Linked DNA regions of Homo sapiens. The protein of the gene in region 3 interacts with the protein of the main gene of each other region in a biochemical or structural test. Each region holds a gene or a part of one and is shown on either strand. Other genes may lie near its edges. The genes, in order: RAB29, CYB5R2, TRPV4, HK1, CCDC102B, VCF2 and DTNA.

Region 1 (2,551 bases), on a different chromosome or scaffold from region 3:
AGGCAGGTAAATCCTGAGTCAGCAAATGGGAAAAGCAAGCACATTCAGTTTTTCAAAAAGGTCACGTTTCCAAGTAGTATTTGGCATGTTCCATCAAGTACTGAATTGGTACTAGGCAGATGGATCTAAGCAATTGGTATTAGTAAGTTAACAGGTAAACAGAATAATATTTACCTTCATTTTAAAAGAAGGTATTTAACCACATTTCTCACTTGTAAGTGGGAGGTAAACATTGGGCACACACATAAAGATGGGAACAACAGACACTGGAGACTCCCAAAAGTGGGGAGAGAGGGAGTAAGCGTTGAAAAAGTGCCGACTGGGTGCTATGTTCACTACTTGGGAGACAGGCTAAGCAGAAACCCAAGCTTTAGCATCACACAATATATCCATGTAACAAACTTGCACACGTACCCCTTGAATTGAAAATTTAGAAAAAGGTATTTAAAAAATAAAGTCTCCATTTCCGCAATCCTCTTGAGCTATCAGTATAAAACAGCACTTTGACAAACTCACATTAAAGGCCAATAACCACCATGAATACAAGACTTAGTTCTCATTTATTTGTGATTTTGCAGGTGTTCAAACCAATGAATGAAAATCAATTATCTCTTCATATCAATGAAATTCACTATTTCACTATTATCTTCAGAATCATAGTGATCAAAACCCTACCTGAAAATGGTAATACAAAAGAGAACTATTAATACAAGGTTTCAGAAGACTGTGCAAGTTAAAATAATTGGCATTAAAACGACACACAACAAACCACCGAAGGTTTGGTCCCTTTTCTCTCTGATATGTGGCCTCTGATCTCTTTCTTAGGGCAGTGGTTTTCAACGTCTGTGTAGCAGAATCACCTGAAAAGCTAACAGAATATATAGAAACCCAGGATTTGTATTTGTATTTAAATGTAAATACAAAAGGTCTGGGTCTCTGTATCTTTACAAAGTTCTCCAGCAATGGTTTCCAAACCAGGCTTATCACAATCACCAGGGAAGCTCTGAAAACAACAACACATTCCTAGGCTTCATCCCTAGAAATTCTGATTCAGTAGGTTTGAGGTCGGGACCCAAAAATCTTTTTCTTTTTGTTTTTTTTTTTTGGAGATGGAGTTTCACTCTTGTTGCCCAGGCTGAAGCGCAATGGTGTGATCTCAGCTCACTGCAACCTCTAACTCCCAGGTTCAAGCGATTCTCCTGCCTCAGTCTCCCAAGTAGCTGGGATTACAGGTGCCCGCCACCACGCCCAGCTAATTTTTCTTATTTTTAGTAGAGACGGGGTTTCAGTATGTTGGCCAGGTTGATCTTGAACTCCTGACCTCAGGCGATCCACCTGCCTCAGCCTCCCAAAGTGCTGGGATTACAGGTGTGAGCCACCACGGCTGGCTCAGGACCCAAAAATCTTAAAACATTTTTAAAAAATTTTAACAAACTTCCCAGGTATTCCCGACCAGCCAGATTTGGGAACCACTGACTTAGGACACTTATTTAAGGTCTATCACAGAACTTCAGGCCTCAGAGTTTAGTAAGAATATCGATAACTTTGGGTAGGTTATAAATCACCATCCTAGAGATAATTTAACAAATTAAATGGTCTAGTAGTGATTTGATACTAAAAAGCCCTGCCCAATTTAGTACTTAAATTACCTAATGATTTTCTGTCTATCTACTTTCCTCCCCCAGGCTAGGACCTGCACATAATATGTTTCCTATGACTAAGTGCCTACGTGTTCACAAAGTTGCCCCAGTGGAGGTTGTTAACTTCTCTCTTTTCTTCTTCCATTCAGATTCCCAAAGCTGTGAGGAGCAGACCTATTTCGAAGCATCACAGCCAGCTGATGTCACTTGCAGTATTATGCATTAAGACATCAACCCAGAAACCTGCAAATGGGAGACACTAGGCAATCCTATCATGAGGATTAAGCTCTTTGTGGAAGAAAATGCTTTCATTGCATGAGATAGGTAGTTTAAAAATGACTATTCTTTTTTCTTTTTTTTTTGAGACGGAGTCCTTCTCTGTCACCCAGGCTGAAGTGCGGTGGCATGATCTCGGTTCACTGCAACCTCTGCCTCCCAGTCTCAAGCGATTCTCCCACCTCAGTCTCCAGAGTAGCTGGGATTACAGACACGTGCCATCACGCCTGGCTAATTTTTGTACTTTTAGTAGAGACGGGGTTTTGCCATGCTGACCAGGTTGGTCTCGAATTCCTGGCCTCATGTGATCCGCCTGCCTTGGCCTCCCCAAGTGCTGGGATTACAGGCATGAGCCACCATGCCCGGCCAAAAAACTTGACTATTCTTGATGCCAAGACAAGAGAAACTTAATTATGACGTTAGAAGTTTCAAAAATACAGTGACTTCTGGGACACTTCTAGTAGCCAAAAATCCACAGATGCCCAGACCCCCTCCTTCTGCATTCCAGAATCAGATGTTTACATTCCAAGACAGAAAGAATCTGAAACAACGGCCTACAAGAAATTTGGGAAATGACATTTGATCTCATTTTCCTCTCAATTGGAAGTCATGATATCAATGAATATCAAATGGAA
Region 2 (4,275 bases), on a different chromosome or scaffold from region 3:
CCTATGGATCATGACTACATCCCACTGTCAGATGACACACTGGGCAGCTACGACCTGTTGGATCCAAAATGTGAGACTCAAATTACTAAGGCAATTAGTGGCAGGGACAGGAGTGCAATCAAGAGATACTAAGAGCTAGAGGCAAGAGAAAGTTTTGTAACCCTAACCCTTGACTAACTTCCTGTATGTATGTAGTCAGTTTACTCCCTCAGTTTCTACTCGCTCAGAAACTGAGTGGACTACATACGGGAAATTAGTCGAGACAAGGAAGATGGAACAGAGAGATGGATAGAAACCAAGACCTAAGGTGCAGGGAGGAGGAGGAGGCAGGAGGAGAAAAAAGCAGGCAGAGTAGGCACTAGAGGGGCTGGTCCCTGAAGCTGATTCAAGGGGATGAGCCAAGTCTTTGAGGTGCCAACACTCTGGGCTCAGAACAGGCTCAATGACTCTGGTCATGGTCCCTCTGGGCACCAGGGATAGCCAGGAGTAAGTGAGACACCTAGCTTCCTTCTGAGAACCTGAAACTGGAAACCTGGAAAGGCTCTTTCATATGCAGCCACCTAGGCCTGGCCTGAGGGTGTCCCCAGGGCAAATGGGGCTCCCTGGCTGGTCCTTCAAGCCCCATCTCTAACTTGCTTCACTTCCACTGGGCTGGGACGAAGCAGCGAACTCTGAGGCCTCATATTAGACTCTCCCAGAGGCCTCTACATTACCTTGTCCCACTAACTTTGCACGGCCTAGGCCAAGGCTGAGGAGATAGTGGGTCAAGGCAGTTTCTAAGCAATTCTCTATCTCAAAGTTTTTCATTCTTTTAGGCTTCCTGCCAACAGGACCTGCCTGACAGGCCGAGCAGGGAGCTGAGAGACGGCACGCACAACACTGAGCTCTCGTGCATAGAGATGGAGTGAGGGAACAGCAAGGAGGCTCAGGGGCCCAGCGAGCTGGCTAGAGTGTAATCTCACCACCTGATAGAGCTGAGGTCAAGGTTTTGGCCTGTGCATATAAGACAAATAGGCCACGGAGTAGGATCCACCAGGCAGGCAAGCAGCACTAGCAGATTATACAAAGCTGCTCTGAATCCCTGATTCTAGCAGTTTTCTACTGCACTAAGACTGACTCAGCTATCTAGTGGTGTTACAGATTAGAAATGGGATAACTCAACTCTAGGACTCCTAGGGCTGGAATCTGCAACTCGTAGGGCTGGTCCCTCCTTATGTGGGTCTGAGGCCCCTGCAGAGAATCTAAGTGACCTTGGGGGCAGGGCACACCTGACTCATTCCTGCCTACCCGCACATTCTGGGCCTTTCCCCGACCACTGGTTCCTCCCATCCCTCCCAGGTGCACAATACTTTGTAGTTTCTGAATTTTCATATCCATCAGTCACTCTACTTTCACAACAACCCAAGTGAGGTAGACAGGCAGGCCTGGGAAATCCCATTTCATAGACTGAGGCTCAGAGAGATTGAAGGACTTCCCTTAAGTTCCCCAGCAAGGAGCCTTCCATGAGATTTTAGGCCTTTTGGCTCTAGGTTCAGTTCTTTTCAATGCTCACTGAGGTACCACTCTCGTGTCAGCCCAATTGGAATAATGAAGAAAAGAAATTTTCTGTCCCACATCCATCCCCCTATCTATCTCCCTGAGCTCACAGGCTCAGGAGGAGCAAGAGGGCATCTTCCACACCTCAGGACGTGGGAAACCTGTGTTTCTGTTAAGAGAGGAGGGCCTAGCCCCCAGAGGCCCCAGTCCTGGTGATGACCCAAGCCCGGCTCACCTACAGGAAGCCCTAAGACATGGTCCGGCGAAGGCAGTCCAAAGCGGAACCTCCGGGTGTTGTGGCTGATTTTCTGATAAAACAAAACATAGGCAGGTTCTGTCAGCTTTCTAGAAGCCTTGCTGGGCAGCTGAGATGCCTGGGAAAGGAGGTCCGTTTGGCGCTATTCCAGCACACACACACACACACACAGGGCGGCGGGGAGTGAACTGGAGGCCATGAGATGACTGTCTGGATGCCCTGCCATCCCAGCCATCATCCACTTACTGCCTTCCACCCACAGGGCTGACCCATTACCTCTTTCTCAATCAAGGGCAGCGGGTACTTGGCTTCAGGGTCCTGTAAGGTGATTGGCTCTCTCCTCCTGGAGTTCATGCTCTTCAGGACCAACACGAGCACAGTGACCCCAGTGACGGTGATGGTCAGGAGCAGGGACGGGTCCTGGCAGACACAATGTGAACAGAGCACCTCAGGTCTTGCCCGCCCTGGACAGGGCAGCTCTCAGGCGCAGAACACCCTCCCCACACCAAAGGCACAGGAGCTGAGCTCTGCCTGCAGGAAATAGGCAAAGAGAACAGTAGTGACACAGAAGGCGGCTGGGAGAGCCTGTCGTGGACCAGAGGGTAGGGAGGGGTCAGCTGCAGGTCACACAGGAAGGATGTTTCAGGCCCCTGGAGCAGGCAGCACACATGGCCTGGGGTGCTCAGGTCACTAGGCCCCTCCTGGCTACAGCCAAAGGTTCATACACTGGAAGTCCCTTCCTTGAGGTGAAGGGGGAGGACATCACCCCTAACACACAATCCGGAATGAGGGGCCCAGTCCCTAAAGACAGAACTAGGGTGCGTAGCTCTAAGAGGTGCCCCGTGACTTAGGGCCTGGGGACTCCCCAACAGTCTCCTGGACAGGGCGAAGGGGGCCTGGGCACTCAACTGCCAGAGACTCGGGAGCCTCCCCGCATCTGTCCCTACCCTACAAGGCCGCCCTGCTCCTCTCCCAACTCAAGCCCGACAGGGAAAGTTGCCTCTCCTCCCGCCGGGTCACTGGAGTCTCAGCCTTCCGGAATCCGAGCCGGCCCGCCCCACTCCCCGCCCTTCGCGGTCCCGCCCACGACCTCTCCCCACGCCTCCCGCTCCGGCCCCCAACCTCCCGGTCGGACGTTCGTTCCCGGCTCTAGCCGGCCTCCGCGCCTCTGGCCTCTTTCCTTCCGGCCGTCCCGACGGAGATATTTCTTCAATACTCCATAAATACACCCCGCCGCGGAACCCACCCGGAGTGAGACGCCCAACACGTCGTCGAACTGGGGTTGGCCGGGGGCCGCTCCCCGCCGCGGGCCCGCAGACTCGTGGCGTCGCCCCGCAGCTCCGCCTGGCCGACGGGGAACCGGCCGAGACCCGGACACGCACGCCCGGGAGGACAAAAGCGCGGGCGGACCCCGCAGGCTGGGACCCCGGCGGCTGGCCCGCTCCCCGAGAAGGGCCGTGGTCGGGGGGCTCTCACTCACGAGCCGCTGGCTCTGGGTCAGCCCTGCCCCCAGGGCAGCGCTCCATCATGAGGCTGGCGGGGCGCTGAGCCGTGGCGTCCTCGCTCCTGCGCTGCCCCTCTGCATCCTGGCCCCTTCCCTGCACACGCAGAGCTGCCACACTGAGCGCCCCTCAGCTTACTTAAGCTCGGCAAGGCTGGAGAAGGCCGTCTGGGTGACCGGGCGGAGGGGGATGCTGGGGAAGGAAGAATTCAGGCAGCTGCAAAGAGCGCGCGAATATATTCATTCGACATACCTCATGGGCGCCTACCCTGGGCCTGGTCCGGGGCGGGTGTTTGCGGGGTGGGGCCGAAGCAGGGGCGTCGCCGAGTTGAAGACGTGTACTCCGAGCGCTCCTGCGTTCATTCATTCGCTGGGTGGAGAGAGGAAGGACAAGAGCCCCGCGCCGATCGGAGGGGAGCAGAATAGTAGGCACAGTTAGAGGGTCTTCACGGTGCGTTTCGGAACCTTGGCTGCCCGGCTCGCCCTTGATTACAGGCAAAGGCAAATTCTTGCCTCAGGACCTGTGTGAAACAGAGAAGCCCAGAAGCAGATCCCCACCTGTTTGACTCTGCTAGGGCTGCTGTAACAAAGTGCCGCAGACTGAGCGGCTTAAACAACAAAAATTTATTGTCTCGCAGGTCTGGGGGCTGGAAGTCCAAAATCAAGGTGTGGGCAGAGTGGGTTCCTTCTGAGGGCTGTGAGGGAAGGATCTGTTCCATGCCTCTCCTAGGTTTGTAGGAGAGGGGCTAGGAGAAGGGGCATCTTCTTCCTATGTCTCCACATTTTCATCCCTCTGTGTGTGTCCCTGTGTCCAAATTTCCCCTTTTATGAAGACACCAGTCATATTCAATTAGGGTCCATCCTAATGACCTTGTTTTAACTTGATTACCTATGTAAAGGCTCTACCTTCAAATAAGGTCATATCCTTAGGTACTGGGGCTTAGGGCTTCAACATAAGAATCAGGGTGAAAACAATAACCCA
Region 3 (2,957 bases):
CCAGGCTCACCCACTGCCACGCCTGCTCCGTGCTGCCTGGCAACCATCCTCCCGCCTAGCAGGACAGCCCTCCCAGTATAATTGTCCCCTGATGAGCACCAGAGTCCCCGCACCTGCACTGTCAACCCCTGGCCAGCGTTACTCTCCCCTGCCCAAATGTACTGTCTCCATGGGGATCATTATCCCCCAGCCAGCACTACTGTCACCCCCACCAGCATCACTCTCGCCCTGCCAACATGACTCTCCCTGGCCAGCATTATTACCCCCACCAGCATCACTCTGCTCTCCTCCCTCCACCCCCACCTTCCCCACAGCCACACCAACCTCAGCCACCTCTCAGGCCACCACCACCACCATCACAACCACCCAGTCCAGCCCCCAACCACCAACACTCTAAATGCCTCCCGGTCAGGACTTCTGCCCTCACTCTCACCCCTGCCCCTGGCTCCCCCCAGGCATTTCCTAGCTCTCCCATCTCCCTCGCTGCAGTCTCATGCCTGTTACCATCCCTCCCACCCCTGCCATCATCCTGCCATCTCCACCGTCAATGAATAAACATTTATTGAGCACCGGCAAATCCCAGACACTACAGAACACACAGAAGGCATGGCCCCACGCCGAGGGCCCCAGCCCCTTGCAAAGCTGCCACGCTGCCAAAAATGGTGGCGCATGCAGCTCAGGCGCAGGCTGAGGCTGGGGCTTGGCCGGGCAGTGCACTTGGAACGGGGTCCTAAGGCCTCTGCCAGGTTCCAGCTGGGGCAGGGGTCACGTCGCTTCCTGAGAGCAGAGCAAATAAATAATGGAGAGGCAGGGGCTGGGGCCTGAGGTGGAGGGGCTCTGGCGTTGGCTTATGTGACTCCATAGGAGCAAGACAGGTGGCCGGGAGCCCCCACCCCAGGGTGGGGAGGCAGAGCCAGGGGACCACAGGGTCCTGGGGCCTCCCTGGCACCTCCACTGGTCCCTCGCCTCTGGGGCCAAAGCAGGGTGTGGGGGGACACCCCAGAAGGCACTGCTGAAATGCGGCTGGACTAGAAATGAGTGGGCAGAGAAGCTGGGGCTGGGCTGCAGTCCCTAGAGCGGGGCGTCATCAGTCCTCCACTTGCGGGGGTAACCCTGCTGGTGGCCATCGCAGCGGGGGTTCCCCATGCTGTCCAGAGGCACCACCACCTCGTCCGGGTTCGAGTTCTTGTTCAGTTCCACCACGCGGGGTACCACCGAGGACCAGCGATCTGCACCGAGAGCACATCAGAGGGAGGGGTGGGGGTTGGTGGAGAGAGAGCGTGCGTATATTGAGTGCCTACTGTGTACTGGGCACTCCACAGTGTTCTGAAGGGGGGATGTGACTATGCTCATTTTACAGAGGTGGAAACTGGGGCTCAAGAGAGGTCAAGGTGCCTCCCCAGGAGAGAATGGAGGAACCAGGATTCAAGCCTGGAGCCGAATGCCCTGAGTGCCTGTGTCCTCTCCAGCTGCGTCTCGCGTGCTCATGGCTTACTGGACAAACAGGAAGGTTTTCTCCACACAGGGATGGCTGAGGAGCTCGTCCTCCCTCCCCAGGCCAGCTTATGTCAACAGTAGGGAGGGCCAGGATGAAGCCACGTAGGTGAGGTGCCCCAGGCATTCACAAGCAGCAGAGGAAGCTCAGGGGCACACTCTCTCATTCTGTAGACACGGACACTGAGTCCCGGAAAGAAGCAGGACTGCTCAAAGCAAATTCGTGATGAGAATGGACTGGGGCTCCCCTCCGCACCCGCCCCTCCACTCACCCCTGCGGAGGCGGCCCACGGTATGCGAGAAGCCATAATACTGGTAGGTCTCATTCTTGCCCGGGTCCTCGTTGATGATGCCCAAGTTCTGGTTCCAGTGAGACCAGTTCACCTCATCCACCCTGGCAGGGCCCAAGCAGAGGGTCATGGGGAACCCCTCAGAGACGCTCTCCATGCCACCATCCCCAGCACACCCTCCTATTTTTTTATTATGGTAACATATACATAACAAGGCTGGGCGTGGTGGCTCATGCCTGCAATCCCAGCACTTTGGGAGGCCGAGGTGGGTGGGTCATTTGAGGTCAGGAGTTCGAGACCAGCCTGGCCAACATGGTGAAACCCCACCTCTACTAAAAATTAAAAAAAATTAAAAAAAAAATTAGCGGGGCATGGTGGCGGGTGCCTATAGTCCCAGTGACCCGAGAGGCTGAGGCAGGAAAATCACTTGAACCTGGGAGGCAGTTGCAGTGAGCCGAGATCACGCCACTGCACTCCAACCTGGGGGACAAAGCAAGACTCCATCTCAAAAAAAAAAAAAAAAAGACGTGTGTGTGTGTGTGTGTGTGTGTGTGTATACACACACAAAAAATTTGCCATCTTAATCATTTTTGAGTATACAATTCAGTGGCATTAAGCACATCCACATTGTGTGACCATCACAGCTATCTATTTCCAAAATTCTTCCATTCCCCCAAGCAGAAATTATTTTTTTTAACCTTCTTTTGAGACAGGGTCTCACTCCATTGCCCAGGCTAGGGTGCAGTGGCACGATCACAGCTCACTGCAACCTTGACCTCCCAGGCTCAAGTGATCCGCCCACTTCAGCCCCCCATGTAGCTGGGATTACAGGGATATGCCACCACACCTGGCTAATTTTTTAAAAACGTTTTGTAGAGATGGGGTTTCACTATGTTGGTCTTGAACTCCTGGGCTCAAGCAATCCTCTTGCCTCGCTTCCCAAAGTGTTGGTATTACAGTCACCACGCCTGGCCCAGATAATATTTCACTGTACACATAGCCCACATTTTGTTTATCCACTCATTTTTTTATATATTATCTTTTTTTTTTACATATTATCTTTAATTTTTTATCCTATCTATTCATTTTTGTTTGTTTGTTTTAAGGCAGAGTCTTGCTCTGTCCGCCAGACTGGAGTGCAGTAGTGCAATCTCGGCTCACTGCAACCTCCAC
Region 4 (3,588 bases), on a different chromosome or scaffold from region 3:
GTAGAGAGGGAGGGGAGGGGTGGGGCAGAGCACATTTCATCCTTTGTCTTGGGGTTGGCAGAGAGGAAGATGAAGGGCAGGATCCGGGTGGGGATGGCAGAGAGGGGACCAGTGTTGCAGTCCTCTCACTGAACCCAAGCAGCCTGGAAGCCAAGTGGCCTTGTTCTATAATCCCAGCACTTTAGGAGGCCAAGGCAGGCAGATCACTTGAGGTCAGGAGTTGGAGACCAGCCTGGCCAACATGGTGAAACCCCTTCTCTACTAAAAATACAAAAATTAGCTGGGTGTGGGGATGCACGCCTGTAGTCTCAACTACTCAGGAGGCTGAGGCAGGAGAATCACTTGAACTCGGGAGGCAGAGGTTGCACTGAGCTGAGATTGTGCCACTGCACTCCAGCCTGGGTGACAGGGCAAGACTCCATCTCAAAAAAAAAAACTCCTCCGCCCAGAAGGCCACAAAACTCCCCAGTGTTTGGTCTTTGCCACATCCCAAGAAACTGCACCCCCCTCTGCCTGTCCCCCCGTCCCCAGCCATTAAGCATCACTCGGGTCTTTGAATTGGTACAAAGTTTACTAGGTCATACGACACGGCTCACAAAGCGGTGGGAAATTCCAGTGATGGCATTGTTTGTTGGTTGGTTCCTTTTATCCAAATGGAGACAAGACACATTTCCGCAGGACTGTCCACCTCCCCCCACGAGACAAACAGAATGCAAGACTGTCACACGCGGCTAGGACTGGTTCCACGGACACACGATTTTGTGGCATTGACACACCACGATGCGATGCCAGGCCACAGTGGGTGCCAGGAGGGGAGGAAGCAGCTAATGCTATGCCCACACTCGCCTTCAGGCAGTGCCCCCGGGAGGGAGGCCCGGCAGTGTCTGCTGGTGATAATACATTTCACACAGGGAGGGGGAACCCCAAGGATGGGCTTTGGAGGCCCAGAAGGCCTGTCAGGTGGTGTGATTTTCCATCTCCAGCCAATAAATAACTCTGTTGGATGAATGCATACATTAGAAATGGATGCCACTACACTTCACACGTGGGGGACCAGGTCAAAATCAAACCATGCAAAGTGGCAGGGCAAGTGAGGAGGGATCCGGGTGAGAGATATTATCAACAGCACACGCTCTATTCTGTACCCTACAATATATACCATTAGTTGGATTTTGCTTTCCTCCCCGCGCCGGCAGGCCCTGGCGCCAGCGTCTCCCAGCGCAACTCGCTGGGAGGGTAGGGGGTCGCCGCTTGAAGAGAGAAGTGCTGGAGAGGCAGTAGGCTGGGGATCCCGGACTCTTAGCTGCTTGCCTCTGTGCGTAACCGCACGCCCACGGCCGTGATGAGGGCGGCCCCCTTGCCGCTGCCATCCTCAGACAGGAGGAAGGACACGTTACATTTTGGTGACAGTTCCTTCACCGTCTGGTGCATGATTCTGGAGAAGCTAAAAAGGACGAGAAAACAGAAGGTAGTTGGAGGAAGATGAGAGACGCTGGGCCTACCCGAAAACACCAAAGCACAGACAGCCCCCTGACTGGTGATGATTCGACTTAGGATTCTTCGACTTTGTGATGGGTTTATCAGGACATAAGCATCGGAAGTCAAAGAGACTCTGAACCCAACAACAAGGAGGGTGAACATGGTTGGGAGGCAGGCTGCTTAGAAGCAGCTGTGGCCAGTTGAGAATGGCTGGGAGGAAAGTGGGCCCACGGTCAATCCCATTGTCACAGTTTTCAGCAGGGAGGCCCAACTGCGAATCCAAACACAACTGCTCTGTATGGCTTATGAAGGCTAGGACATGAATAACACACACACCCACATCGGAGCTTGAGGCTCCAGGGGGACCTCAAAACCAAGGAGGATGTTAGGGGCTGACATGGATCATTAAGGCAGGTGCAAGCCAGCCAAGCACTGGATCGGTTCAGGAGGCTATGCAGGAATGAATATCACCCATCTCCAGCTGCAACCCTGAGACCCCCAGCGCCCCACCATCAACAGCCTGGCCCCCAAAGACAGGAATGCCTTCCAGTGAAGATAGTATCTGAACAAAGGCTGAATCTACATGCTTGTAAGTTGGGCTCAAAATGAAGGGCAGGGCCAGGCTGAAGATGCTTGTGGTGAGGGGCTCTCAAAAGTAGTCACTGTCCTTGGTTGGGGACCTATTAGGTGGGCGGAGTGCGGTGGCTCATGCCAGCACTTTGGGAGGCCAAGGTGGGAGGATCACTTGAGCCAAGGAGTTTGAGGACCTACTAGGTGCCCCATATTTTACAGCTCTAATTTCTAGTCCTGCCAGTGGCTGCCACCTCATGAGGAAGATGAGATTTTGCAGGGATTAAGCAATTGCACACAGATTCTAAGTGACGGTGCCAGGGTTAAATCCAAGAGTATGTGGCTCCAAAGCCTAGCTCTAAACCACTCCTGTGTGCTGCCTCAGCTGATGGCAAGGACAGCTATTAAGGGGGAGAGACAGAGGTGAGGATGGAGCAAGACAGATGGTTCCACCCCAAGCCACGGCCATGAGGTAAGCAGGTAATGTCTACACTGAGTCGGGTGAGGTTGCTTATAAGTAGGGTGACACTATGGCCTCATTTATCTGGGATGGTCCTAGTTTGCCTACAGTCCCAGAGTAATAATTATTAGCACTCTTGACTGGCAAGAGTACCCTAGTGTAGACAATAAATAAATAATATGGTCACCCTATTCATAAGGTGAGACATGCGGTGGATCACAATCACACAGCAAGTGCAATCACATGTCCTTCTCTGGCATGGGGGGTCAGATGCCTGACCAGAGGGAGGCCACTCCCTACCCCTCCCTGCCATGAAGCCCAGGGCCCAAACCGCTCCCGCCCTTCCAAGTCTTAGCAAACTGATTCAGCAGATGAACAAGAGAGTGGCTATCCTCCTTTCCTATTTTATTTTTTGAAATAGGGTCTCACTCTGTTGCCCAGGCTGGAGTACAGTGGCGTGATCTGGGCTCACTGCAACCTCCACCTCCCAGGCTCAAGCAATCCTCTTCCCTCAGCCTCCCGAGTAGCTGGGACTACAGGCATTCACCACCATCCCTGGCTAATTTTCAAAATTTTTTTGTACAGACAAGGTCTCACTATGTTGCCTAGGCTGGTCTCAAACTCCTGGACTGAAGCAGTCCTCCCACCTAGGCCTCCCAAAGTGCTGGATTACAGGTGTGAACCACTGCACCCAGCTCCTCCCCTTTCTTAATATCCTCTCCCCACTTACCCAACAGAGCCTCTGGCCTGGCTACAGCTCACCAGGCTTATGAGTGAGCCCACGCCCACCCTCACCTCCTCTCCCACTGCCTAGCCCCCACCTAAGGGGGACCAGGAGGAGTGGGGTGAGGGTCACATCATGCCACTGGTGTGAGCTGGCCAAGTGAAGCCACTTCTCTGTCTCCCTAAGGATCCCAGTCAAACCCTACAAACTGTTCATTACCTTGTCCTAGACAATCCCCAGCTCCTGAACGCACAGCCTTCAGCCTGGCTGGGCTCCCGCAGGGCATTTCCCCAGCGTAAACCACACCCTGATACCCCCTAACCCAAAGGGATCCCAGCAAGCTCTGCGCATCCCA
Region 5 (2,662 bases), on a different chromosome or scaffold from region 3:
TCTTGAGAGGAAGACGCCTTGCCAGTTGCCCCACACCCACTTGGGGCACAGCCACAGAAAAGCAGAGAAACATGGTCAGGCAAGGGGAACCCTAATATTTAGCTTCTCCAAACTGTATTTGGTTCTCATATGGGATTGTGACTGAGATGAGACCTTGACCTGCGGCCCATCCTCAAGGCTCCATCTGGATGAATTGCTCAGTCAGTTGGTTGACAGGGGATATGATGGGATAGAGGAGGTCATACCAGAAAGCACTGAGATGGATCCAGTTCACAGGAGGAGTGTTAAGCAAAGAGAAGGAAGTTCACATTTAAGCATCAGAACCCAGCAAGAGTACCCAGCGACAAGATAGATTTCATTACTACACAGCCTAGCAAACACACACCAGTGCGCACTTGAAGATCGGGCCTCTTTGCCCCTCAGTGCTGCGTTCCTATTAGTCATACAATCCCCCATGTTTGGGAGAGAAACAGGGAAAAAGTGAAGACTCAGTGAATGACAAAGGCTTTTACAATGAGAGACTCTGATAAAAGTGGTCTTTATTCAATAATGAATTAGTAAGATTTCATTTTTTTTTGGCTAATCAATGGAGGGGGAGATGAGTAAAACCAGTATGTTATTGACTGAGTTAAATCTTACAAGTTGCCTTCAGTTGAAAATAGGTATGGAAAATTATAAGTGTCTTTTTGTTCAAAATAACATTTTACCTTAAAAACTAAACTTAAATATGAAGCAATAAACTATAATGTACATAAAAGTTTTAAAGAAATATTCACATAACCACAATTTCCTAATTTTCTCTATTCCCACTACTCAGAGGGAAACCACAGCTTAATTTTGGCCTGATTTCTACCTAGATGCTACTTTGCAATGCTGATGCCTTTCCATGATTTTACTGTAGAAATGTCTATCCAGATAAAAGTCAAAAGTCCTTTTAGTTTCTCAGCGATGCTTACAGCCTGTCTTAGATTCAATCACTGGTTATCTGTTACTTTAAAATACAAAACACTTTTTTCTGATTCATCTGCTCACTTCTGTTTTATACAAAGATTAGAAATGACTTATAAAATTATATAAGAAATGTATTGTTACACCTCTAGAATGATTCATTTTTGTTAATACAACCTGCCATCCCCACCACATAGACAACACGTACATAAAAGTTTACCAATTATTTAAACAAACCAGTACTTTATACTTAAAGTCAATGGTTTTCTTATTAATGACCCAGCGTCTTGTATGGTTTTCAACTTACTTTTTCTTACCGATATTATAACTCTTTCAGATTTTATGTAAAAAGTATTCTGAAAGCCCTTTTTGACTTTCAAAATATTTACACATCTTAGAATTAAAGTTGTTTTTAAATGACATTTAAATTGTCTTTTTGAGAATATGCAGTATCTGTTAGGCAAAAATTAGAAGAAGTGAAGAAGCCCATTAATTTGTGTATTGTCTACGTTTTTTTCATTAATATTTCTAGTTAATAAAAACAATTTTACTGATATTTAAGAAAAGGATATGGAAATGTCTTTAAGGCCCTAATCTTTAATTCAGCATATTTTGTGAAAAAATTACCAGTTTTGCAAGTGCCTGAGTTCAGTCTCTAAGTTTTCATTTCTTTCTTTCTCTTCATCCAGAGACCTCTGGAGCTTACGGATCTGATTCAGGGAATCATCAAGCTGAAAGCGAAGTAGAAAATGCTTTAGTTAGGTTCAAGTGTTCTATAGTACATCATGGTGGCTATAGTAAATAACATCTTATCATATTCTTAAAAATTGCTAAGAGAATAGATTGTAAGTATTCTCACCACAAAACTATAAGTATTTGAAATAGTACATATATTAAGTAGCTTGATTAGCTAGTCTACAATGTACACATTTAGAAAAACATCATGTTGTATATCATAAATATGTACAAATTTTACTTGTCAATTTAAAAATAAAATTTAAATTGAAAAACATGAGGATCCATTCTATATAAGACACAGCTTTCTATCTCCATCTTAATAAGAAAAGCTCTTAATGAAAAAAAAAAGTAGTTGAAATAAAGTAACTCTTTAAAAACAAGGTATATGTTTGTATGACAGTAACTTACCAGTAGTGTATGTGTGAGTTTCTTTTGTATATGTGCATGAATAAATGAAAATATTCATTTATTTTAATAGAGTTAATGTACATATTCAGTAATAAACCTCAAAATGATCTCTGAAATATTTGACAAAATCCTTTCTATGTAGCCACTCTTCTCCCATTTCCCCTCTTGCCTCCCCTAGCTATAAGTCACTGAACTATAACTTGTGTTTTTTATTCCCATGGCTTTGAACAAAATACACGTGTATGTATACATATTCACATATACATATGCTAAGTGTATATATATATATATGTGAAATATATTTATATATATTATTGAAAATGTATCATTTTAATTGTTTTAATTAAAAAAGGTATTTCATGCTATATGTAATATTCTTGCTTTTTAAATCCAACAGCTAAGACTCATCTACAGTAATGTTTCATCTGTGGTCTCTTTGTCCTCTCTATTATAGCACTGCATTACTATGCCATGACATATATACCTACCCTCCTTTCCATGAGTATTTATATTGTCTCCAGCCCTGTGATGCTCTGAACATTCATATATACTGGGTCCCTTGATATCC
Region 6 (3,552 bases), on a different chromosome or scaffold from region 3:
TTACAGTACTGCCTGAAAAATAAGGTAAGAACTAGAAATCATTTCTGATGAATCAAATTTTCTTCTCCAATGACAACATATTGATTTTACACTGTAGTGCAACACTAGGGTGATGCTATGCTGTGTACATTAAAAATTCATAGGCTAGAAGGGATTTCTTTAGAATAATTATTAAGAAAAAAATCTACCTTTAATTTGTTTCATTTTAAAAGTTTTTAAACTCAATTGTGTACAGATAGAAATGCTCATTAAGACATTTTTATGCTATCAATATTTTTATTAGCTGAAAATCAGAAATAACTAAATGTTTAAAAACAAAGAAGTATTTAAATTATAGTGCATGCATTCATACAACAGAATCTCATCAGCCATTAACAATAATGATATATCATTCTATATCAGAAGTCTTTATACTTCAGGTTCTTAGAAAAACCTAAATTTATAGGCTATAAAAATAGTTAACAGAGAAATAACTAAATGATGACATTCACAGCTTTCATCTGAGTAAACCATTTAAAAAATTAATTAGGTAAATGTAATAGAAAAAATGCCTGTAAATAAACTTGTCATATAATTTAAAATCTAAAGTTATATTAAGTTAAATAATAAATACTCATTAAACATCTGGATGATTTCTAATTTTTAAAAAATTATAGGAAAATATTTTTCTAAAAAATATTTTCTTATTTAAAAGAAAATAATTTTTGTCTAATTCAAAGGTTACTTAAAAGTTATTTATGAAACAAGGTGAAAGAAACCAGTAAATAAGAGCAATGTAAAGAAATGTCTCTTTCTTTACATACTATATATTTACCTCTTTATAAATATAAAGGGGTATTTTTGGCAAGAAACGTTAAAAGGAAAATAATTTTATATGAGAAAAAATCTTGTATGGTAAATTTCTGTCCTAAAATAACTGGTTATTTAAGAAAGAAAGATGTCTGGGATAAAACAGGAAGTCCAAGCATCTCATTAATGATTTGTATCAAGTTGTCTATAATTAAAGGGAAATTATTTATAATAGTCTTTTTAGAGATTGGGTTTTGATTTTTTAAAAAACATACACTAAAGAATCAGTTAGAGCAACAAAATTTTCTTAAGGTATTGATTTACTCTCAATAAAATTACAACGGATTTTAATTTGTTTAACCCAATTTTCAACTTTTATTATCTTGTATTTTCAGCTTTCTCTCCCCCTTGAAAAGGCCTGAGATAATAACCCTCTCCTTCAACTCATTTTCAGCTTCTGTAATTTTTCTCCTCAGGTTCTAACTGTTTGTCATAGCCTGATGCTAAAAATGTTTTATCTTAAAGGTCTAAAGAAAATGTTTTCTTCCAACATAACATTCTGTGCTCTTGGCTTTAAATTTGTCCATGAATCTGAAAATTTTCATTTATTACCCAGGAAACACTCTGCCTATGTCTAACTAATTCAAGTATCATTTTCATTAGTTTTGATTTGCAGCTTACCTAAATGGACTTTCCATAGGGAATATCAATTGTACTGCAGGAGGTTTTTTTTTTTTTTTTTCTTGCCTTTTGGTAACTGGTCTAACAAATTTTACATTTTATCAAAATAACTCCTATGCCATTGTTATTAAGTTTTAATTTGCTTAGAAAAAAACTGAGGTTAAATTTTTCTTTTAAATCAAGGTTACTATATCCACGTAACTTTCTTGCTTTTAAAGTCCTTGTGCCTTTAAGTTACAGGGCGTTGACTCCTGGATATAAAAAGAACACCAAGTCTTGCTAAATCTTAAACAATGACAGCAGTTAAAGCCTTATCTTCAGACCCAGTAGAAGATACCAATCAAAATACACTGTGTTCATAAGGCACAAGGCCAGAAATTAAAACTATTAAATTCCTCAAGGCCCAGGGACTATCATGGAAGAGGTGGGTGTGTGAGATTGTAACGGCCAATTTTGAGAGATAAAATTAGTTCAGTTTCTCTATAAATTAACTATTAATATTGAAGGCACACTGATGCAAGACCAGCATCTGGGCCCCGATGTCAGAGTAACAAGGTTTTCTTGGCGCATTAACCCATTTCTTAATTAAAGAAAAATAAAGGTTATGAAAAAATTTATTGAAATTATATCTTATGGTCAAGATGACCAAAACTTAATAAATTTGTTTGGAAAAATTTAAAAGACAGATTTAATGGGCCTCATGTTGTCTTTATGAAAGCTTATGGTTTGGGAAATTAAGTCTCCTGTCTCAAAAAAATAAAAACTTTTGTCTTTCTTTGAAATCTATCACTCAGCTAAATGAATGACTTATTTTACAATGACTTTTGATCCTATTTTGTGATATCAAGTGTTTTTAACTTTTTCTAGTTGACAAACTTTCCAAAATAAAATTCTAAATTTGGTCCTCATTAATCTTTTAATATTAGGTCCCCTGACGCCCAAAAGAGACATATTTGGGTTATTTGATATAATACAATCATACAAGAAGTATTGTCAAATATAAAATGGCATTTAACCCTTGGATTATATTTATATAAATGTGTTATTAGTATGTGTTTCAGAATTGTATGAAATTCCTGTGATTCTGATATGTCTTGGTACATGTCAGCAGTCCCCAACCTTTTTGGCACTTGGGACCGGTTTTGTAGAAGACAATTTTTCCACAGATGGGGGAAGGAAGGGATGGTTTCAGGATGAAACTGTTCCACTCAGATCTTTAGGTATTAGATTCTCATAAGGAACACACAGCCTAGATCCCTCACATGTGCAGTTTACAACAGAGTTTGCGCTCCTATGAGAATCTAATGCTGCTGCTGACCTGACAGGAGGCAGAGCTCAGGCAGTATTTCTCGCTTGCCCACCACTCACCTCCTGCTGTGCGGCCTGGTTCCTAAGAGGCCGTGGACCAGTACCAGTCTGCAGCCCAGGGATTGGGAACCTCTGGTATATGTTATCAGTAGTAATAATGATTATGTAAAATAGTTGTAAGCCACAGAAGTAACCAAATTTCCTTGTCAATTATGTCTTTATGACTGTTCTAAGACTCTTGTCATTCATAGTTGTTTTACTTTTATCACTTTCAAAAGGTGGTTTTATAATCAGCTATAGGACTCTGACAGGTACTCTTGAATGCAGGCTTCTGATAACTTTGGAGACTGTGATACTAGAATAGAGGAAAAACTTCCAAGACTCCCACAGAGAGCTAATGTGTTCATAAACATTGAGCAGAACAGGAGTTAATTACCCAGATGAAACTAATGGAAAACTGAAATAATCTTTTTGTGACTTCGAAACATTGTTTGAAACTCAGAAACTTTTGTTTCTGAATTTGTAACATTGTTTCTTTTTCTAACTTTTGTTTCTGAGTCCAGAAAACCATTTTTCTTTGAGCTATTTTGCAGCTTTTAATATTGGGTTAACTATGTTAGTGTGAGAAAAATCTGAAGCATATTTCTACCTGATTTTTCCAGAATTTGAAAACTATTTGCAAGTATACGTAGTTTATGGTAGTATAGTTATTTGCAAAAAATTGATAAGACTCTGTTTTCTTTTGTAACAGGACACAATTGAAGGCACTGATTT
Region 7 (3,552 bases), on a different chromosome or scaffold from region 3:
TGCAAATCAGCGGTGAAGACAAACACATATACATGGGTAAAGGGATTCACAGACTTTTCTACTCTTTAACATTATTATTTTAATAATTTCATAAATTTGCATATTTATATTAACTCAGCTAGTTAGTAGCATGATTCAGGCATTCCAATTCTTAAGCCAAGACTCTTTTTCTACACCATGTTGCCTATACATGTTCCATCTAAAGAGTTGGGAAGTCAACAGTTAGACCAGCATATAGCCATGTCTATGACTTCTTGCAGCTTTTTTTCTTTCTTTCTTTTAATTGAGATGGAGTTTCACTCTTGTTGCCCAGGCCGGAGTACAATGGTGTGATCTCGGCTCACTGCAACCTCCGCCTCCTGGGTTCAAGCGATTCTCTTGCCTCAGCCTCACAAGTAGCTGGGATTACAGGCGCCTGCCACCACGCCCAGCTAATTTTTTGTATTTTTAGGACAGATGGGGTTTCACTACGTTGGCCAGGCTGGTCTCCAACTCCTGATCTCAGGCGATCCACCCGCCTCGGCCTCCCAAAGTGTTGGGATAACAGGTGTGAGCCACGGTGCCCGGCCGACTTCTTACAGCTTTATAGCTTCTAGAGAGGAAATACGAGCTCATGTGTTTTCTATATTTCTTGGATTTTCTTTTTCAGACTGCTATTGTCTGAAACAACGAAAAACTATGTAAATACGTTAGACTATTTATTTTGTTAGGACATATTCCTAGTAGTAGAACTGTAGGGCCCAAGGATATGCAATTTTTAAAGACTTTGCTACACATTGCCAGCTTGATCAACTCCCCACCTGCACCCAGTGTACACTGCTATATGATAGCAGTGTATATGTGTTCCCATTTTCCAGACTTTTCCTAAACCAGACATTATCTCCCCCTTCCTCCTTTTGCTTTCCCCTTTAAAAAATAGTTGCTAATTATTAAAATGACATGTGTTTAATTTGTAGATATTTTTAAAATTAAAAGGGAAGTGCTTTTTCTTACAGATTTATGAGACCTCATTACATAACATGGATATTCACTTTTTCTCTTTCATATATGTTGCAAATGTTGTTTCTAATTTGCCATTTATCTTTTTAATTTTGTATATAACATATTCTAGAAGGAGTAAGTTTTCATATTACCATTCCTTTATGATTTTTGTCTTTGAGGTCATCCTTTTCTATCATAAGTTCTATATTTTCTTTCACTACTTTCATAGATCCATATTTTATACTGGAATTGCCAATCCATCCAGTATTTTCTTTCATGTCAGGGATGTGTAGAGGTAAGTAATTTTTCTGAGTAAATGTTCCACCAAACAAATCAAAATTAACAGGTTTCAGATATAAAATATTGTTTATTTAAAATAAATAATTAAAAAATTAAAAACAATTAAAATATTGAAATGGTGTCTAGTGAACATTTCATAACATGTGTGTTTGAGAGTGGGGAATTATTATAGTAATACCACTCTAAAATATCCAGCTAATAATACCATGAAGTGAAGACCAGTTAATTGCCCCTTTATATACTAAAAATATAACTAATTGTTCTTTCCTAGAAATGAGTTTGCATTTTTCCTGTCAGATACTGACCCACACATTGTACAATTCTTGATAAGTTTAATCATTTTTTTTTCTATTTTTTATTATTATACTTTAAGTTTTAGGGTACATGTGCACATTGTGCAGGTTAGTTACATATGTATACATGTGCCATGCTGGTGTGCTGCACCCACTAACTCGTCATCTAGCATTAGGTATATCTCCCAATGCTATCCCTCCCCCCTCCCCCCATCCCACAACAGTCCCCAGAGTGTGATATTCCCCTTCCTGTGTCCATGTGATCTCATTGTTCAATTCCCACCTATGAGTGAGAATATGCGGTGTTTGGTTTTTTGTTCTTGCGATAGTTTACTGAGAGTGATGATTTCCAGTTTCATCCATGTCCCTACAAAGGACATGAACTCATTATTTTTTATGGCTGCATAGTATTCCATGGTGTGTATGTGCCACATTTTCTTAATCCAGTCTATCATTGTTGGACGTTTGGCTTGGTTCCAAGTCTTTGCTATCGTGAATAATGCCACAATAAACATACGTGTGCATGTGTCTTTATAGCAGCATGATTTATGGGTGGCTGGGTCAAATGGTATTTCTAGTTCTAGATCCCTGAGGAATCGCCACACTGACTTCCACAATGGTTGAACTAGTTTACAGTCCCACCAACAGTGTAAAAGTGTTCCTATTTCTCCACATCCTCTCCAGCACCTGTTGTTTCCTGACTTTTTAATGATTGCCATTCTAACTGGTGTGAGATGGTATCTCATTGTGGTTTTGATTTGCATTTCTCTGATGGCCAGTGATGGTGAGCATTTTTTCATGTGTTTTTTGGCTGCATAAATGTCTTCTTTTGAGAAGTGTCTGTTCATGTCCTTTGCCCACTTTTTGATGGGGTTGTTTGTTTTTTTTCTTGTAAATTTGTTTGAGTTCATTGTAGATTCTGGATATTAGCCCTTTGTCAGATGAGTAGGTTGCGAAAATTTTCTCCCATTTTGTAGGTTGCCTGTTCACTCTGATGGTAGTTTCTTTTGCTGTGGAGAAGCTCTTTAGTTTAATTAGATCCCATTTGTCAATTTTGTCTTTTGTTGCCATTGCTTTTGGTGTTTTAGACATGAAGTCCTTGCCCATGCCTATGTCCTGAATGGCAATGCCTAGGTTTTCTTCTAGGGTTTTTATGGTGTTAGGTCTAACGTTTAAGTCTTTAATCCATCTTGAATTGATTTTTGTATAAGGTGTAAGGAAGGGATCCAGTTTCAGCTTTCTACATATGGCTAGCCAGTTTTCCCAGCACCATTTATTAAATAGGGAATCCTTTCCCCATTGCTTGTTTTTCTCAGGTTTGTCAAAGATCAGCATTCTTATACACCAACAACAGACAGAGAGCCAAATCATGAGTGAACTCCCATTCACAATTGCTTCAAAGAGAATAAAATACCTAGGAATCCAACTTACAAGGGATGTGAAGGACCTCTTCAAGGAGAACTACAAACCACTGCTCAAGGAAATAAAAGAGGATACAAACATTCCATGCTCATGGGTAGGAAGAATCAATATCGTGGAAATGGCCATACTGCCCAAGGTAATTTACAGATTCAATGCCATCCCCATCAAGCTACCAATGCCTTTCTTCACAGAATTGGAAAAAACTACTTTAAAGTTCATATGGAACCAAAAAAGAGCCCGCATCGCCAAGTCAATCCTAAGCCAAAAGAACAAAGCTGGAGGCATCACACTACCTGACTTCAAACTATACTACAAGGCTACAGTAACCAAAACAGCATGGTACTGGTACCAAAACAGAGATATAGATCAATGGAACAGAACAGAGCCCTCAGAAATAACGCTGCATATCTAAGTTTAATCATTTTTGATGACAGCCTCTATCGCTTATTGAACAAAACCAAGATATTTTATAATAAAGTCTGATAATAACATACCAAGCACCTCTATTCCTAGTGACTTATAAATGCTATTAACATAATTAATTAAATTTGAGGGT

The links.
Region 1: the proteins of TRPV4 (region 3) and RAB29 interact in a test that uses a peptide from one of them, tested with the Homo sapiens proteins (one large-scale study listed by BioGRID).
Region 2: the proteins of TRPV4 (region 3) and CYB5R2 interact in a test that uses a peptide from one of them, tested with the Homo sapiens proteins (one large-scale study listed by BioGRID).
Region 4: the proteins of TRPV4 (region 3) and HK1 interact in a test that uses a peptide from one of them, tested with the Homo sapiens proteins (one large-scale study listed by BioGRID).
Region 5: the proteins of TRPV4 (region 3) and CCDC102B interact in a test that uses a peptide from one of them, tested with the Homo sapiens proteins (one large-scale study listed by BioGRID).
Region 6: the proteins of TRPV4 (region 3) and VCF2 interact in a test that uses a peptide from one of them, tested with the Homo sapiens proteins (one large-scale study listed by BioGRID).
Region 7: the proteins of TRPV4 (region 3) and DTNA interact in a test that uses a peptide from one of them, tested with the Homo sapiens proteins (one large-scale study listed by BioGRID).

The regions. Positions count from the first base shown.
Region 1 is NC_000001.11:205,767,445-205,769,995, forward strand, and holds the end of RAB29 (ras-related protein Rab-7L1), read right to left. Parts: 3' UTR 542-2,551; downstream 1-541. UniProt on the Homo sapiens protein: The small GTPases Rab are key regulators in vesicle trafficking. Essential for maintaining the integrity of the endosome-trans-Golgi network structure.
Region 2 is NC_000011.10:7,670,680-7,674,954, forward strand, and holds the start of CYB5R2 (NADH-cytochrome b5 reductase 2), read right to left. Parts: upstream 2,822-4,275; 5' UTR 2,740-2,821; exon of another isoform or gene 2,702-2,739; intron 2,213-2,701; 5' UTR 2,147-2,212; coding exon 2,069-2,146; intron 1,845-2,068; coding exon 1,772-1,844; intron 1-1,771. UniProt on the Homo sapiens protein: NADH-cytochrome b5 reductases are involved in desaturation and elongation of fatty acids, cholesterol biosynthesis, drug metabolism, and, in erythrocyte, methemoglobin reduction.
Region 3 is NC_000012.12:109,782,550-109,785,506, forward strand, and holds the end of TRPV4 (transient receptor potential cation channel subfamily V member 4), read right to left. Parts: intron 1,889-2,957; coding exon 1,767-1,888; intron 1,230-1,766; coding exon 1,072-1,229; 3' UTR 540-1,071; downstream 1-539. UniProt on the Homo sapiens protein: Non-selective calcium permeant cation channel involved in osmotic sensitivity and mechanosensitivity. Activation by exposure to hypotonicity within the physiological range exhibits an outward rectification.
Region 4 is NC_000010.11:69,398,847-69,402,434, reverse strand, and holds the end of HK1 (hexokinase-1), read right to left. Parts: intron 1,445-3,588; coding exon 1,300-1,444; 3' UTR 553-1,299; downstream 1-552. UniProt on the Homo sapiens protein: Catalyzes the phosphorylation of various hexoses, such as D-glucose, D-glucosamine, D-fructose, D-mannose and 2-deoxy-D-glucose, to hexose 6-phosphate (D-glucose 6-phosphate, D-glucosamine 6-phosphate, D-fructose 6-phosphate, D-mannose 6-phosphate and 2-deoxy-D-glucose 6-phosphate, respectively).
Region 5 is NC_000018.10:69,053,047-69,055,708, reverse strand, and holds the end of CCDC102B (coiled-coil domain-containing protein 102B), read right to left. Parts: intron 1,680-2,662; coding exon 1,572-1,679; 3' UTR 520-1,571; downstream 1-519. UniProt on the Homo sapiens protein: During interphase, forms fibers at the proximal ends of centrioles to maintain centrosome cohesion. During mitosis, dissociates from the centrosome following phosphorylation to allow centrosome separation. Contributes to CROCC/rootletin filament formation.
Region 6 is NC_000023.11:55,147,661-55,151,212, forward strand, and holds part of VCF2 (protein VCF2), read right to left. Parts: intron 1-3,552.
Region 7 is NC_000018.10:34,713,297-34,716,848, reverse strand, and holds part of DTNA (dystrobrevin alpha), read right to left. Parts: intron 1-3,552. UniProt on the Homo sapiens protein: May be involved in the formation and stability of synapses as well as being involved in the clustering of nicotinic acetylcholine receptors.